Regions from separate parts of the Homo sapiens genome. Here region 2 is linked to region 1. The links come from fine-mapping of genetic effects on gene expression. A gene starts in region 1. The other region holds a variant in brackets. All regions are shown on one strand. Distances are from middle to middle. Region 1 holds the start of SP110 (SP110 nuclear body protein). Region 2 overlaps SP110 (SP110 nuclear body protein).

The links. PIP is the estimated chance that this variant, and not a neighbour inherited with it, causes the effect.
Region 2: its variant is fine-mapped to the expression of SP110 in T cells (TOPMed, PIP 0.97).

What each region holds. Positions count from the first base shown.
Region 1 is chr2:230,215,542-230,225,343 of GRCh38, reverse strand. It overlaps SP110 (SP110 nuclear body protein), which reads left to right and starts at 5,360. Exons shown (of 19, transcript NM_080424.4): 1 at 5,360-5,470; 2 at 8,416-8,563. The coding sequence starts at 8,417. It also overlaps a transcript of SP140 not described here. RefSeq lists a silencer at 5,248-5,434 and enhancers at 5,152-5,631, 8,572-8,721.
Region 2 is chr2:230,170,953-230,178,952 of GRCh38, reverse strand. It overlaps SP110 (SP110 nuclear body protein), which reads left to right. Exons shown (of 19, transcript NM_080424.4): 13 at 698-796; 14 at 1,273-1,415; 15 at 5,994-6,109; 16 at 6,779-6,887; 17 at 7,186-7,257. Among named protein-coding and RNA genes, the nearest start is that of SP110, 45 kb to the left of the region's middle. The variant A/C (reference allele first, on the strand shown) is at 3,036.

The DNA.
Region 1 (9,802 bases):
AATAGCATGCATTAGAAAGTGGGGGAGATGCTCTTAGCACTCCATGAAAGCAGACAGAGGTAAAAGACAACTCTCTCAACTCCTCCAGCCAAAGGCAAGTGCTGAGGTTGGGCAGAGAAATGAGGTGCAATTCTAAGTTTTCTCAAATATGTGGGCACTTTACAACAGCAGCCAGGGGTGACTGGGAAAAAAATGAGCTTCAACCATTTCACTGAAATCTTGAGGAGAGTGACAGCCTTCTCACTGGATGGGGAAAGGGTTTGGAGCTGAGATTATCTAGACCTTCAAGGACAATATGATACAGGAGGATAGCTGTATTACATTTATGTTTGCACACAATTTTTCATTTATACCCAGCCCTCATTCTGTAAAGGATTTGAAACAATTTACAAAAACACACTATATCAGCATAAAGTCGAGTGATAAACAAATGGAAGCAAAGGGCAAATATAAAAAATATAACCACAGGACTAGAAATCCAGGCAGAAAAATGGGTCAAAGACAGGGGGCTGATGAGAGCCAGGGTATGGGTAGAATCCAGGGCCAGTGACAGAACAGTAGTGAGGATTGAAAAGCCAGAGGCAAAGCAGTATTTTTCCAAAACATGTGCTCCTGAATCCTACTTTTTCTGGTTCATTACACATATGCAAGGAAATTTGCATACATAAGTTTGCAAAATACAGAGTGCAAGAAATTTCTACCCCTTCCACACTTCTGCTTTCTTTCTACCAAAGGAACAAACACCAATCTGGTTGAGACAAACTCTAGAACACTGATGAGGACACCTTTTCCAGTATCTCTCTCTCTCTCCTCTCTCTCTCTCTCTCTGTCCTCTCTCTCCTCTGTCTCCCTCTCTCTCCCTCTCTCTCCCTCCCTCTCCCTCCCTCTCCCTCTCTCTCCCTCCCTCTCCCTCCCTCTTTAAAACAAGAAGGAAAAGTATGCTGGGCTTCTGTTAGACACAGCTGTCCTCTCCTCCCAGTCTCCATGGGGCTCCAACAAGGCCTGGTACAGACTATACCGCCTGCTCCAGCATCCCCTCTCTCTCTTCTCTCTGCCCTTAGGCAGTAGGCAGACCCAGGACACCAATGAACTGGACATTTTTGAAAATGTGCCAGCTTCTTTTGCTTATAAGCACAAGGCCATTGGTGTTCCTCAGCTGACTGGTGGTAAGATTGGTACTTCAGGGGTACTGCTGCTACTACTAGAAAGCCCTACTTTGCAACACCATGCATTAGCCCAGGTAAGGATAGCCTGAAATTTCAGTTCTATTTCCCACTATCTTGTTTTTCCCTATGCTCACTACAGAACCTCTCCTGGGTAAGGGATTCCTGGGCCAGGCATATGTAGGACCATCAGACCATCTCTGGTTCCCAATGTCTTCCTTTACTGCCACGTGACCAGTGGAGTCAGAAGGCTCCGGCCTGCCTCCTGGCTCTGTTCCCCCATCCAGATTTAGGCCAAGTAGGTCATAATCCCCAAAGGTAAATCAATGCTTTCATTCTACCTGGAAGATTTCTCTTCATTTTGCTAAGCATGCTAGAATCTGACACCTGGAATTGGGGAAATGAATTGTATAGAGTCTTGATCACAATCCAGTGCTGTAATTTAATTTGCCAACTTACCCCTATTTGCCCACAACTCCAAAATTCCTGACTCTGAACGCTAATGGGGATGTTCACTGTTTTTATGTCCAATTATGTCAGATAACCAATCCCAGATTGATCATATTTCCTTGAATATCTCTTGCCTATAATTCAACCTCTGGTGCCCAACATTTTTATCAGTCAGGATTTGGGAGTAAAAGTAATCCAAACTGACTCTGGCTAACTCAGGCAAAAAGTCAATTTCTTAGAACTATATTGGGTAGCTCACAGAATGTATGGGAAAGCCAGAGGACTAGGTTAAGAAAGTAGGCAGTCCAGGCAGGTTATATTGACTCACTTGCCCTTTGTCATAATATAGTTGAAAGATATCTGGATCACCTGGACATCCCATAGAATGTCAGACTGGGCTGGGCATGGTGGCTCATGCCTATAACCCCAGCACTTCGGGAGGCTGAGGCAGGCAGATCACGAGGTCAGGAGATCAAGACCATCCTGGCCAACATGGTGAAACCCCATCTCTACTAAAAATACAAAAATTAGCCAGGTATGGTGATGCGTGCCTGTAGTCCCAGCTACTCAGGAGGCTGAGGAAAGAGAATCACTTGAACCTGGGAGGCGGAGGTTGCAGTGAGCCAAGATTGCGCCACAGCACTCTAGCCTGGAGACAGACCGTGACTCTGTCTCAAAAAAAAAAAAAAAAGTCAGACTGATTGATGACATCATGCTGATCAGACAGGATGAGCAGGATCTTGGTGGCTAGCATACCTGCTAAAGAAGAATAAATTACTGACCCACAACAACAGAGATGAATCTCAAAAGCATGATGATGAGGAAAAGAAAGCCATACACCAAAAATGCATTCCATGTGCCTTCATTGATAAAAAAAAAAAAAAAAAAAACTTTAATACACACGAAACTAATCTGTGGTGATAGAAAGCAGATCAGTGGTTGCCTGGTGCTGGCCTTAAGGAGGGGATTGTTTGCAAAGGTCACAGGGAACTTTCTAGGGTAACAGAAATGGTCTGTATCTTTTTTTTTTTTTTTGAGACAGGGTCTCACTCTGTCACTGCTCACCAGAGACTGGACCTCCTGGGCTCAAGCAATTCTCCCACTTCTGTCTCCCTGATAGCGGGGACCACAGGTGTATGCCAACATGCCCAATTAATTTAAAAAAATGTATTTTTGTAGAGACGAGGTCTTGCTCTGTTGTCCAGGCTGGTCTCAAACACCTGGGCTCAAGCGATCCTCCTGCTTTGACCTCCCAGAATGCTGGGATTATAGGCACAAGCGACTCTCCAGGCCTAGAAATGGTCTACATCTTGACTGGTGTAGTAACTACATTTGGTAAAATGTACATTACAATGAATAAATTTTATACCTCAATAAAATGGAGCTAAAAAGAATTATGTATAATTTATCTCAGTACATAATCACTAGCATGTGAATTAACAGGTGACGTTTTCCCATTATTACCATGTTCTCAAGCATGCATTTTTTTTTTTTTTTTTTTGAGGCGGGATCTCACTCTGTTGCTCAGGCTGAACTGCTGTGGCGCAGTCTCAGCTCACTGCAACCTCCAGCTCCTGAGTTCAAGCGATTCTCATGCCTCAGCCTCCCGAGTAGCTCGGATTACAGGCATGTGCCACCACGCCCAGCTAATTTTTTTGTGTTTTTAGTAGAGACGGGATTTTGCCATGTTGGCAAGGCTGGTCTTGAATTCCTGGCCTCAAGTGATCTGCCTGCCTCAGCCTCCCAAAGTGCTAGCTAAGCTACAGGCCTGAGCCACTGTGCCCAGCCAAGCATATATGGCTTAGAATAAACATCTTTCATCCTCATTCGCAGCTGTCTTTTTTTCATGTAACAATTTTTGCCTGATTTGACATTGACTTTATTTTCCCACTCCTGCTTTACTTTTGTTTGTTTGTTTTGCATTTGCCTGGTGTATCTCTGAATAGATCTAAAGGAAGAAGTTCTTGCTGCCAGGATCCTCAGATGCCCATGAAGGGGCTTTCCAGGTGATGGGGAGGGGCTTCAGGTAAGTGACATGTGACATTTGCATAAAATAACCTTAATTCCTTTACCACCGCCATCCCCTGCATCACAGCGCTGTATGTTACTGCATGCTGAGGCATCAATGCACCCTCTCCTCAGCTGTTAGCATTGAATTTTTCCTGGCTGTGGCTTCCATGCCTCTGTTTCACCCACAGCCATTACCCGCAAGGCCGGGTCTGCTATTCTGTACATACTAGGGTGGGATATGCTGTTTGTGCCTGCATAGAAGGGCTTGCTCTTATGCAGTTAGCCTTGGTTTCAAAGCTTCTTAAACTTTAGATCCATGTCTCCCATCTTTTATCTGAGGAGTTTGTGGATGTCCTGGTAGGGGAACTTGTGGGTCAAATACATTTGAGAATTATTGATTTAATCAAAGTTACATAGAATTCTTTTTTTTTTTTTTTTTCGAGATGGAGTCTTGCTCTGTCACCCAGGCTGGAGTGCAGTGGTGCGATCTCGGCTCACTGCAACCTCCACCTCCTGGGTTCAAGCAATTCTCCTGCCTCAGCCTCCCAAGTAGCTGGGATTACAGGTTCCCGCCACCACATCTGGCTAATTTTTGTATTTTTAGTAGAGATGGGGTTTCACCATGTTGGCCAGGATGGTCTCAAACTCCTGACCTTGTGATCCACCCATCTCAGCCTCCCAAAGTGCTGGGATTACAGGCGTGAGCCACCGAGCCTGGCCCAAAGTTACACAGATTTCTATAGTGCAGTGGTGCAATCATAGCTCACCGCAGCCTTGAACTCCTGGGCTCAAGCAAGTCTCCAGCCTCAGCCTCCTCACTAACTAGGACTACAAGGTGCATGCCACCACACTCAGTTAATTTTTTATTTTTTTATTTTTTGTAGAGATGGGGTCTCACTATGTTGCCCAGACTGGTCTCAAACTCCTAGGCTCAAGCAATCCTCCCATCTTGGCCTCCTAAAGTCCTGGGATTATAGGCATGAGCCACTGTGCCTGGCCAATAGTTTAGGATTTTTCATAGGCCCCACATGTCAATGTACATTAGGGATCTTTAAAAGGGGCATGAGAAGGGGTGTCCCTGCCAGCCCTTGAGTTACTGCTCTCTGGAATCAGCAGGTCCCAGTTCTGCCTCAGACTCCTGGCTCCCAACTACCTGCCCAGCTCTCAGCCATTTTTCTGCCTGGAGGTCTGCCTGCCTCTGCACAATTCCAGTTCATGTGCAGGTTCCCTTTCATTTCAATTTCTTCCTGTAATAATCTTATCCTGACAAGTTCTAGGCATTTCTGGCACATTCTCTTTGTTTTTTTGTGTGTTGTTAGAGTTTGATAACACACTGGATAAATTCCAGTGAATTCATTCAGTTATGTAAACATCACCACAATCCAGTTTGAGAACATTTTCATCAACCTAAAATGTACAGAATGAGGACAAGTCATGGGAAAATAGATGTGGTTAGGGAAGCATTTGGACGCTGAGTTCCCAGTTCCTATTGCCGCTGGGGCTGTACCCTTATGCCTCCTCCTCCCATACCTCCCTCTCTGGGCTGATCCCAACTGGCAACACGCCCTCCCCCAAACCCCAACTGCCAAGACGTCCTGGGAGCCTCACAAGTGCCCATGAGGAGGTGGAGAGAGGCTGCAGGCACCGACCTGCCTTCAGCTTCCGGCTTGGCAAACTCCGAAAACTTTCACTTTTCTTTTCTCGGAAGCCCGGCCCCTTACTGCGTTTGTCAAAGCACAGACTTCCTGTTTTGCCTGCTAGCATCTCCCTGTAACTCTCCCAATCTTGAGGAGTGATCCCTGTCCCAGCCCCTGGAAAGGGGCAGGAACGACAAACTCAAAGTCCAGGTGAGTTTCTGTCTTTGCTGCTTTATTCTTCGCTCTTGGTGACTGCAGCTCTTAGAGTTAACTTCGCGGCAGCAGCTGCAGGGTGGAGTTCAACTATTTAAACTCTGAGGCTCTCTCAGAGCTCAGACATGTGGTACTTATTAGGAGACTGTTAAAAGGGGGCACATGGAGGGAACACTGACACCTCTTTTTTTCGCCAGAGTCCAGCCTGTTATTGTGAATGGAGCCGAGATTTGCCCTCTACCCTCACCTAAGCTCTGATCCTTCAGTGCCCGCAATAGGCGGCTCATCTGTTATCCATTGTGTAAATGACTAGAGGTACTTGGGAAGCTGGTGGAAAAGAAAAAAATGAGAGTACATTTAATTTCGTCTCTAGTGTATCATGAACTTTTTATATATTTTCTCTAAATACATGATTATTTCCTTGAAATAAATTATTAGAAGTGGAAATTCAAAGGAGCACATGTTTTAGGACATTTGACACTGATTACTAAATCAGCCTTCAGAACATTTGGACCTGTTGACCTTCCCACTCACAGTGTCTGAGATTATTACTATTATTTTCTATCTTGGCCAATTTGATAGACAAATATGTTATCAAATTGTCTTCATTTACACTTTTTTTGGTTGTTTGTTGTTGTTGTTTTCTGAGACGGAGTCTCGCTCTGTCACCCAGGCTGGAGTGCAATGGCACCATCTCAGATCACTGCAACCTCCACCTCCCAGGTTCAAGCGATTCTCCTGCCTCAGCCTCCTGAGTAACTGGGACTACAGATGTGCACCACCACGCCCAGCTAATTTTTGTATTTTTAGTAGAGACAGGGTTTCACCATGTTGGCCAGGCTGGTCTCGAACTCCTGACCTCAGCTGATCCGCCCACCTCAACCTCCCAAAGTGCTGGGATTACAGGCATGAGCCACCATGCCTGGCCTTCTTTATGCTTTCTACTAGCTAGTTAACATGCTTATCGTATTATTCATTGCACATTTGGCTTATTCTTTTATCACTCTCTGTTCATGTATTTTGCTTTTTTATTTTCTAGTTGGATGTTTGTCTTTTGCTTATTCGTTTGCAAAATCTCTTTACATAATAAAAATCTGAACAGTCATATATGAGATGTAGTATCTTGCATAGAAAGAAACAGGGCTTTAGAGTCAGACAAGCTCTGCTTTGCCACTGAATACCTTGGGTGAGTTACTAAACCTCTCTGTGCCTCCCTTTCATCTTTGGGACTCATGACAGATGAAGAATGAGGAAGCTCTAGACTTCCTGTTCTGAGCGCTGCTGTATAATGAATTGTTCTAAAAGGAGCCTCCAAGACCCCTTCCTCTTCTTAGTATATGTTTACTCTGCCTTTCTCTGACTTTGCACTGATCTTTGCACTATCTCCTTCCCCTGTGCATATTGTGGATAGTAGATTTCTCTCCTATCTGTTCTCTATCTTCCAAGACTTCTTTACCACCACAGACTCTCAATGGCATCTTTTCTTGTTTTCCTATGCGATTGCGGATTATTCTTTTCATGAGTATTTTTTTCTGCCAAGTTAAAAAAATTGGGGAATGAGGAGAAAGAGACTAGGGTGCTTAATCTGCCACTGGGATTAAATCCCTGTAAACAGTTGTTAATTACGATTTACTTTTCTGTTCAACACAAAATGAAGTTGGAAAAGTGGAATCCATGTTTGTTCTGTTTGTTAAAAACTGTCAAGTTGATTGAATGTTTTGTTAGTGCTTTTCCTTTTCTTGACAATTTGTCAAGAATGTCATTTGTAAACTTTCTTCCCATTATAACCTATTGATATCTCCTCACAGTCCATAAATGGCCAATCTTTAATACATGCTGCATGGGCATGGGAAAAGGCGCATGTCTGAGACATGAAATGGTTGCAGTGAACAAGTCAGTTAAGTCACTTTTACTAAGTATGCCTTTCTCAGCCCTCATGCTTTTATTTATGCTTGGCCCATTTGTGTTGAAGATTGGGAGTGGTTCGTTAAAGTTTCCAAATATTACCAGGTTTCCAGCTGAACTCTACCCATTTTAGGGTGGTCCCTGTTGCATGAGCATTGCTAGTTAATGGCTTCAGCCGTAGCCCAGGTCATCTTGTTTAACCCAGATCAGTGTGGCCATAGAACACATAGTTAGCACTGTAAGCCTGGAATCAGGATTTGCTCCCAGCTCTTCCACTCTCTAGTTGTGCAACCCTGGGGCAAGTTATTAAACATTTCTGTGTCTCAGTTCCTCAACAGTATAAACAGGTGCAGTCATAGGAACCACCTCGCAAGGGTTTTATGAAAATCAGATAAGTTACTGCATATGAAACCCTTAGAACAAAGTCTGGCACACAGGAAACACTCCATAAATATTAGCTACTTTTAATACCTTCCTTATGTTTACCTGCAGCGCCTTGGGATTCTGTCATTATATTTTCAGTCACTCTCAGCCTCCATTGTTGCTGGGAATTGTCCTTGTTTCCTATACCCATGAGCCTTTTAGGCAGACATTGCTTTGCAGGCTACTAAGGATGCCTTTGGGACCAGAATGCTTACCTTTAGATCTGCCCATTTAATGCAGAGAGAAGCTTCCCACATTCCTCAAGGTTTTGCTTCTATTTTTTTTTTTTTTTTTTTTGAGATGGAGTCTCACTCTGTCACCCAGGCTGGAGTGCAGTGGCACAATCTTGGCTTACTGCAACCTCCACCTCCCCGGTTCAAGCAATTTTCCCGCCTCAGCCTCCCAAGTAGCTGGGACTACAGGCGTGCGCCACCACACCCAGCTAATTTTTGTATTTTTAGTAGAGACAGAGTTTCACCATGTTGGCCAGGATGGTCTCAATCTCTTGACCTCAGGTGATCCACCCACCTCGGCCTCCCAAAGTGCCGGGATTACAGGCATGAGCCACCGCGCCCAGCCTTTGCTTCTATTTTTTATCATGCCTCTTTCCATAGGATGTTCACCATGACAAGAGCCATGGAAGAGGCTCTTTTTCAGCACTTCATGCACCAGAAGCTGGGGATCGCCTATGCCATACACAAGCCATTTCCCTTCTTTGAAGGCCTCCTAGACAACTCCATCATCACTAAGAGAATGTACATGGTGAGTCATGTTGAACCCTTCCATGGCAGCCCAGCCCCCACCAATATGCCTGATTATTAAAGTCTCAAACCACAAACCACCAGGGCTTCCAGAGTTTGGAAGGCCCAGCCCAGGCATGTTCATTATCACAGAAGGTGGGGGTAGTTAGGAGAGAGGGTGTCATAGGGGCTATGTTGGTTTCTAGGGTGTCATAAGGACTGCTGTAACAATGACTACAAACCAGGTAGCTTAAAACAACAGAAATATATTCTCTCAGGTGTGGAGGCCAGAAGTCCAAAATCAAGGTGTTGACAGGGTTGGTTCCTTCTAGAGGCCCTGAGGAGAATCCGATAGCTGCCTATCTCCTAGCTTCTGGTAGCTGTTGGAAATCCTTAGTGTTCCTTGCCTTGTAGATGCATCACTCTGATATGTTTTCATCTCTACATCACCTCTCTTTTGAGTCTTCTACCTAATCTTCTGAGGACACTTGGATTTAGGGTCACCCTAATCAAAGATGATTTTATCTCAAGATCCTTAACTTAATTACAACTGCAAAGACACTTTTTCCAAATAAGTTCACATTCACAGATTCTAGATGGATATATCTTGGCTGAGATATATCCATCCAACATTCAACTCACTACAGGCATCATCCCAATTTATAACAGCTAATATTGCTCACAGTGCATTCTGATGTGAGACAGGCAGGCACTGGGAGATATGCTATGTGGACAAAAGTGGACCTATTTTTATATAATTTTGGTTTTTAAAAGCATTAATTGAGCCCTAGACTCAAGGAAGTGCCAATAATCTTCCCTTAGTCTTAGTCTGGTTGGCCCCAACTCCCTCTTCAGATCACAGCCCAGAGAGCACTCCTCAGAGACATCTCCTTGGCCAACTCATCTCATGAAGACCCCTTAGTTATTCAGTTCCATAGCAATCTATGCTTTCCCTCCGTAACACTACTCTCAATTGTAAATGGGTATTTATTTGTGTTTATTAATGCTCATCTTCTCCACTTGACAGTGCCTACCCTGACCCCCAAATATAGGCAACTCCATGTTGGTCTTATTCAGTGCTGTGTACCCAAAGACTCGCTGACCGAGCCTAGTAGATGTTCAATAATTATTTGCAATCAGTTCTCTCTTGCCGTATTTCTCCTTTTGTCCATCCTCTAGGCAAGGAAAATTCTCAGGGTGACTTCTCTGTGGCTGGAATCCATTCAGGCTTATCTCAAGTTTGAGAGACACAGAGAGAGAC
Region 2 (8,000 bases), 45 kb after region 1:
TGAATTCACCCATAGTGAGGTTGGAGGGGAAGGCAGCAGGAATTGCTGAGATTTATTTTAAACCCTCTTGCAACTGCTTCCCCTGAATCTAAACTCTGGATTTCTACCCAGGGGTTCTGAGTTGCCAGACTGCTCCATGAGCAACTGGGAAATTAGTTCAAAGCTCTCCAGGGTTTTCTTTTATTCATCGAGGAAGAAGCAGGGAAGCAATAAAATGAAAAGAAACAGCAAATAATTAAGACTGACACCATCCCCTCAGTGCCAGCCACCTCACTCACCCAAGTCTTCATTTAAGTCAGGAAATAAGATTATAAATGAAGATTTTTTTTTCCTCTGGCAACATGAATGCAAAGAAACATTTCCATCAGCACAGAGAGATCAGCAGGATGCTTATAGAATAGAAGACTATTCAGTGACAGCCAATTCACTTGCAAATTAAGACACATTCACTGAAGATGCCCTATATGTTCCACTAAAATGTTTTTTTTTTTGATATAGTGTTGGTGGCAGTGGTGGTTTGTTGCAGGCCACTGTGTACACATAGCTTATCTGTCACTCGAGATGAAAGAGTTCCTGCAAACTAACCAGAGAACGTTCCCCAATACCCTGTACATTATTGGAATTCATGGAGGGGAGAATTCAAAAGGAAGATGGAGTGAAGACTGAATAACACAAAACTGTTCTCTTCTACTTTAAGGAAAACCCAAAAGTGACACTGTGGATTTTCACTGTTCTAAGCTCCCCGTGACCTGTGGTGAGGCGAAAGGGATTTTATATAAGAAGAAAATGAAACACGGTGAGTTCCTTGGTCTTCTGCTCTTTGGAATCCCTAGATGAAGGACTCACTAGAAGGGAGGAAAATACCCGTGTGTGTAATTGATCAGGAAATGGACCCTGCTAGCTAGACTGCAGAAGAAACGCTTCTTAGGAAGGAATTTCCAAACTCTTCCACATCATGGTATTTCTGGCAATCAGACCCTCCACTCCCACCTGGAAGTCACCCATGGGCCCTGCTGTACTGACAGCCATGTCCTTGCTGCATGTAGGCACTACACGAATGCACATTCTGTCCCACCCCTCACCACTCAGTCAGGCTTTAGGGCTGGCTTCAGTCCAAGAGAAGAGGCCCGCAGACTCCCCTGCTACTCCTTCCACCTCACAGAGGAAGTCTCTCTTGACCTGGAAAGGTAGAAGGCCACAATTAGGATGAAGAGGTTCAGGGTGAATTCACAGAGGATGGGGGTAGATCCAAGAATGGGCTTTTTCTTACAGGATCCTCAGTGAAGTGCATTCGGAATGAGGATGGAACTTGGTTAACACCAAATGAATTTGAAGTCGAAGGAAAAGGAAGGAACGCAAAGAACTGGAAACGGAATATACGTTGTGAAGGAATGACCCTAGGAGAGCTGCTGAAGGTATTATAATGACGGGACAGATAGGTGACAGGTTTAAATCCTTGAAGGAGAAGTGGAGCTTTAAGAGCAGAAATGTGAAGAGCTCCCGTTAGGATTCAACAGCATGATTTATAAGGAGTTAAATGTTCATAGAAAAAAAACTGTGGGTGACAAAGTTAGGAGCACATATTGTTCCTGATGGTGGAGAACTTTAAATGCAAGTAAAGGAGTACAGGAACTTTAAATGCCGGCAAAGGGCTTTGAGGTGAAGAGAGATGTAAGAACCTAAAAAGAAACTAGCTGAAGACAGATGCCTGCAACCACTCCCCTGCATCCTCTACCTGACATCTACTCAAGGCCCAGCTCATCTGGCCCCCCTGCAGCATTTCCAGGCTGCCCAGTCCGTGGTCTGTCTCTCCGCTGCATGTCCACAGCACACTATTCCTGTCCTGAGAACAACTAGTGTCTATGATGACAGGACCCAACACAAGGCCTCTCTCAGCAACACTCAAGAAATTATCACTAGGATGAAATCCTAAAGATTTTAATCTAGAGAGGGAGAAATGGAAGGAGAAAGGAATGGATGGGAAAGGTTAAGAAAGAAGAACTAGGGTCGTGGGTTTGAGTGACAGGGGAAAAAGTGATTTTATCACTAAGTGAGGTCCAGAAGAAAAACTGACTGGGGGAGGGAGCTAATTTTTCTTTTTGACTTCTTGGGTTTGAGATCCAGTGTGATGTCTGGGTACAGACATTCACTAGGAAGTGGGAAGGCCAGTATCTACAAAAGAAAAACCTCCAGAATAACCTCATTCATTGACTCCTTCTGTCTTTCAGAGTGGACTTTTGCTCTGTCCTCCAAGAATAAATCTCAAGAGAGAGTTAAATAGCAAGTGAATTTCTACTACCCTCTCAGTCACCATGTTGCAGACTTTCCCTGTCTGGAGGCTCACCTTAGAGCTTCTGAGTTTCCAAGCTCTGAGTCACCTCCACATTTGGGCATGGCATCTTCAAAACAATTAATTTGCATAGTTAATTTGGGATGGGGAAGCAAATGACTCTAAAATAAAAATTAAATGAAAAAGCTCATCATGTCCATGTGTTTTAGAAAAAGATCTGGATATTTGGATGGCTATAAACCAAAGGTGTCAGAAATAAAATGCTCTAAGCCTAGGCAACATAGCAAGACCCCATCTCTAACAAATTTTTTTTTAATCAACTAGGAATGGTGGTGTGCACCTGTAGTCCCAGCTAAGGCTGAGGTAGGAGGATTGCTTGAGCCCAGGAGTTCAAGACCAGCCTGAGTGATATAGTGAGACTCTGTATTGCTATACAGAGCGATGTAATCCCAGCACTTTGGGAGACCAAGGTGGGTGGATCCCTTGAGCCCAGGAGTTTGAGACCAGCCTGGGCAACAGGACAAAACCCCTTCTTTACAAAACATACAAAAATTAGCCAGGCATGGTGGCATGCACCTGTAGTCCCAGCTACTCAGGAGGCTGAGGTGGGAGGATCACTTGAGCTCTGGAGGCAGAGGTTGCAGTGAGGCGAGATCATGCCACTGCACTCCAGCTGGGGCAACAGAGCAAGACCCTGTCTCAGAAAAAAAAAAAAAAGAATGCTGCAGCATGAAAAGCAAAAGAA[A/C]AGGCATTGAAATAGACAGGAACAGTATATGAAAGGACAAGAGGATCATCCATGATTGCATACTGAGTATTGCTGAATCCTCCATGCTTCTTATTGGTAGCACCAGGATGGAATGACGCCTTTGAACTGAGCTTTGTCTCTACAGGGCATCCCTACAGCTGGAAATGGCAGTCATCTATTGGCTGCACTAACTCCCCCTCCTCAACCTCCTCTACTTGCTTAGATGTGTTCTCCAGACACATCAGCTCCACTCATGAGCTTCCCGTTAGTTGTGAACTTCCAGCAGAGACAATGGTGCCTCCCCCATCTTGCCCTGGAGGCTGGCCTGACCAGGCTGGATTCATTCAAAGTTTAAGGCACTGGTCTCCCAATGCCATCTATTATATAAATCATCTTTCCCATGCTGGTCTGAAATACCCTGAGAATCAGGGGTGCTCAGTGTAACATCATAATAGCAAAAAATTAGGGACGAACACAAGTTCTATCAGTATTGCAGAATAAACTGATACAGCTACAGAATGGTTTTTTTTTAAACTTTTCTTATAGAATATTAGACCTTTGATATAGATATTTGTTTAAATACATGGATTCATAAGTATGGAGTTATCCTTCAATCAATGGAAAGCCACCAAATGGTTTTGTGGTCAGGAGAGCTTCAGGACACTTAATGCTAGTTGTGACGTGTGGGGAAGGAACCCATTGTTGCTTATGTGAACGTGTAGGTAGGTCTATGAGTGAAAAAATAGCCAAAAGAATCAACTGCACTTATTTTGAGATGAGATCACAGGGACATATGCCTTCTGTATTATACCTTTATGTACAATTGGAATTACTATAATGACCATTTGTTACTTTTGCAACCAGAAAAAAAAAAATCTTTAAAATCCAGATCATTAATTAATAGCCCCAACATGGTAATACCCTCTAACTCTCCTAATGCCACATGTCAGCTCATAATAGCCAGGGGCATGCTTGACCCAGCCTCTCAGTCCCACCTTCCAGGGCCAGGTTGGGAGAATAAGATGAAGGTTTACCCGACTGAGAATGAGCCAGTGCGGGCCTTGCCCTCAGCCCCATCATCCAGTGTCACTGCTGCTCGGCAGCACGTCCGTCTGTCTCCACTGCAGTCTCACTTATGTATGTGTACAACAAAGAGACCGATGCTGGTACTCCCAAAATGTGTTTTGTGGTTGCCCTGCAGCGTGCTGCCTCCATGACCCACACATGATGGGCAGCTGGTGTAAAGAGCCACAGACTTGGCCTGTGAGAGCCTCCGTCTCCAGAAGGGCTTGGATGCAGCCAGCAGTTGCCACTCTATCAGCATATAGTGTGAGGCTGAGGAGAACAGCTTTTGGGGTTTTGGTTTTTTTTTGTATCAGAAGCCCATGGCCATCATGGGTGGTCCAGAGATGCCAGGAGGCATGAGAGGAGGTTGCCAAAGCTTCCACAGTGAATGAGACTCAGGAGGGCACTAATGTCTGCTGTATTGCAATTTGACAGATTCTAGAACCTTTTGTTAGAAGGGGCCCCATTCAAAGTGGGCTTATTTTGCAAGTAACAGCGTAAATGGGCTTACCTAAAATCTACAAATGAAGGATGTGTTTCCTTGAACTCAAGAGGCCTGAAGGATGCTGGGAGGTTTATTAGAACACTGTGAGTACTCAGAGGGTCAATAATTATTTTTTGACAGTGTCAGGGATGGAGCATCCCTCAACTGACCAGACAATGGCCAGAAATTGGTGTGGATCCCTGTACTATGCCTGGGGCAGTGGCCCATACTTTTTTGTTTTAGTTTAATCCCACCATGTGGAAACACAAACCCCATCCTTTTCTATGAGTTCTTTGTGAGTAATGTCCTGAGTGTGTCAAATGAATTTGCTGAAAGAAGGGTGTCTTCAGGGTGATGTTACACCTGTACTCCTAGAGAATGTCAGATGCAGTTCAAATCCTGCCTGCAAAGATTGTGTATGGTGGCAGAACTGTCGAGGTACCCCGTGGTAGCCAGATAACGGTCTATTGTGTCCCTTCGGGGGTGAAAGCAACCTGCAGCTGAGATCTGTTGAAATAGGCGCTGAACAGAACACATTAGTCAAATCTATGCCTGCAGAGTATTTACCACTTGCTAAGTGGATGGAGTCAGTAATTTCAATAACATTGGGCCATCACAGGTGGGGTCACAGGATTCAGGTTGTAGTAATTCACCGAGAGGCACCATTCATTCTTTCCAAGCCTAAGAACAGACCAAATTGGGCTGTTAAATGGAGAAACAGTGGGGATAATCACCCTTTCTCTAAATAGATCTTCCATAATGAGTTTCAATCCTTGAAAGCCGTGTTTTAATTCATATTGATCAGTATTAAATATTTTAACAGAGAAGGTCCATAGAGTTCCATTTTGTAAAGCCAATTGTAAGTGCCAAAGGTAACTTAATTTTAATTATTTTAATGTGTTATTTACTGGGTCATAGCATCCATGCCCACTGTGGAACATTTTAGGGCCATGTTATGTTACGACCATGGGGCAGTTAGGCAAGGCACCAGGAACAACAGTTCCCATACTCCTGCACCCAAATGCCAGTTATCATCATTTCTTACTTTGGTCAGTCAGATCTATTAATAGAGGCCTGGTGGGCTCAGCAAATGCGCCCAGAGTGGCCCAGCTCAAAGCACAAGCTTGCCAGCAGGCAGCAGCACAGCTCAAAACGCAGCAGAACCTGTTGGCAAGCCACAGCCAGAGAAGAAAAGTCCTGGTGGCGGCGGTCACCACCCAGACTCTCTGCTTGTTGTGCCATTTGTCTTGCAATTTCCCCCAGGGAGGTGGCATCAGCTCCCCCCATCAAAAATTGGGTTTGGATATCCACTCTGGCACACACAAAAATGATGTGTTCTAGAACCCCACAGGGTCAGCATTCGTGGGTCTCCATGGTCCTAGCGGTGCCCACGTTATCTGCCCTTGCAGCGGAAAAACTCGGATGAATGCGAGGTGTGCTGTCAAGGGGGACAACTTCTCTGCTGCGGTACTTGTCCACGAGTCTTCCATGAGGACTGTCACATCCCCCCTGTGGAAGCCAAGAGGTGAGTGGGATGCAGCCCCGCCTCGGGCACACAGCACTCACCTCCAGATGGAAAGGGCAGGACCTGTGAGCGTCGGGGACGAGGGTGTGACGCAGAGCAGTCTGGTGCCAGAGACTCTGGGCCTCTCTGGGTCTCTGAGACTGCCAGTGAGCCTCTTGGCCCCACACTGCTTCTGCCCCTGGAAGTGCCCTTTCCTAGTATGCTATTCCCTGGACAGCAGGGACTCCTGTCCAAAAGGAGGAGGGGACGGGAAAAGCCAGCTTATGTTCTGTGCCTGTTGAGGAAAGACAGGAAGCACGGCTTGTCACACATTTCACCATAGTCTCACCTGGCTGATGGAGGCCTGAGGTCCCTGCAGGTGAAAGCCCAGATTCTGACACTCAAGCCTGGCAGGCAGGGTTCCTTTGTGCTCCCAGCAGCTCAGACAGGGAAAAGAGAGCCCACACTTAACAGTGACACCACCTTCCTCAGGCTGCCCGCCTGCCGCTACCACTGATGCGAGGGAAGGGCCAATGCTGGAGACCCCATGTGGGGATCTTGGACACTCTGGGAGGTGTCCCACCCTCATGGCTGAGCCCATCCTTCCTGAGGGAAGACAGTGGCAGCCACAGGAATGGTGGCCATTTCCAGGGGCTTTGCCCTCTGCTCACCTTGTGTCCAACCTCTCAGGATGCTGTGGAGTTGCACCTTCTGCAGGATGAAGAGGTCTTCAGGAAGCCAACAGTGCCATCATGTATCTAAGACCCTGGAGAGGCAGATGCAGCCTCAGGACCAGCTGGTGAGTTGGATGCAAACCCCAAACCTATACTTTTCCCTTCTCACACGAGAAGCACAAACAGGCACAGGGTCAGGGCAATGTACCAAAGGGAGCCTTCAATGTCTCCCTTTAAAGGATGACGATTTAATGCCCAAACTCAGAGTCTAAACAAAATCCCACACACCCTGTGCGCCTTGGGAAGCATGGCTGGAATGCTGACTGGGCTTGGCTGCCCCATCCGTGTGCATGTCTAGACACTCGCCTGGCTTCACTGTTTCTAAGCTGCATTTCACTTTCAAGCCCTCTTCACATTTTACAGAAATGTGAGTTCCTCCTCTTGAAGGCCTACTGTCATCCACAAAGCTCCTTTTTTACGGGCATCCCATTTAATGTAAGTCACATTTTACGGTTCTCTTGCATAAAATGCATTTGGAGAAATTTGGGGGCTGATCTGGCAGGTGCTGCAGTTTGCTCAGGAAGCTGGAGAACAGAAGAGAAGGGCAGCGTGGCAGCAGTGGAGCGGGGCAGCAGGGATTTTGCTGCACACTCTGGAGAGGGACTACCTGGTTCAAACTCCACCCCACTGCTCACGGGCTCTGGGATACCGGGCAAGTTGCTTCTCCTCCTGTGTATCTGTTTCATCTTCTCTTTAGGAAGAATGTCTTTCCTACTAGAGATTAAGAGTCACAGATGCCAGCTGGGCTCAGCGGCTCACGCCTGTAATCCCAGCACTTTGGGAGGCCAAGGCGGGCAGATCACTTGAAGTCAGGAGTTTGAGACCAGCTTGGCCAACATGGCAAAACCCCATCTCTACTAAAAATACAAAATTAGCCAGGCATGGTGGCAGGCACCTCTAATCCCAGCTACTCAGGAGGCTGAGGCAGGAGAATCGCTTGAACCCAGGAAGCAGAGGTTGCGGTGAGCCAAGATCGCACCACTGCACTCCAGCCTGGGTGACAAAGCAAGACTCCATCTCAAAAGAAAAAAAAGAGTCATAGATGCCAAACTGTGTGGGTTCCCATCTCAGCTCTACCACTTTCTTGCTGAGACATCTTGGGTAGGTTCCTTGACCTCTCCATCCCTCGGTTTCCTCATCTATGAAATGGGCATTATTATTTATGGTACCCATAAATG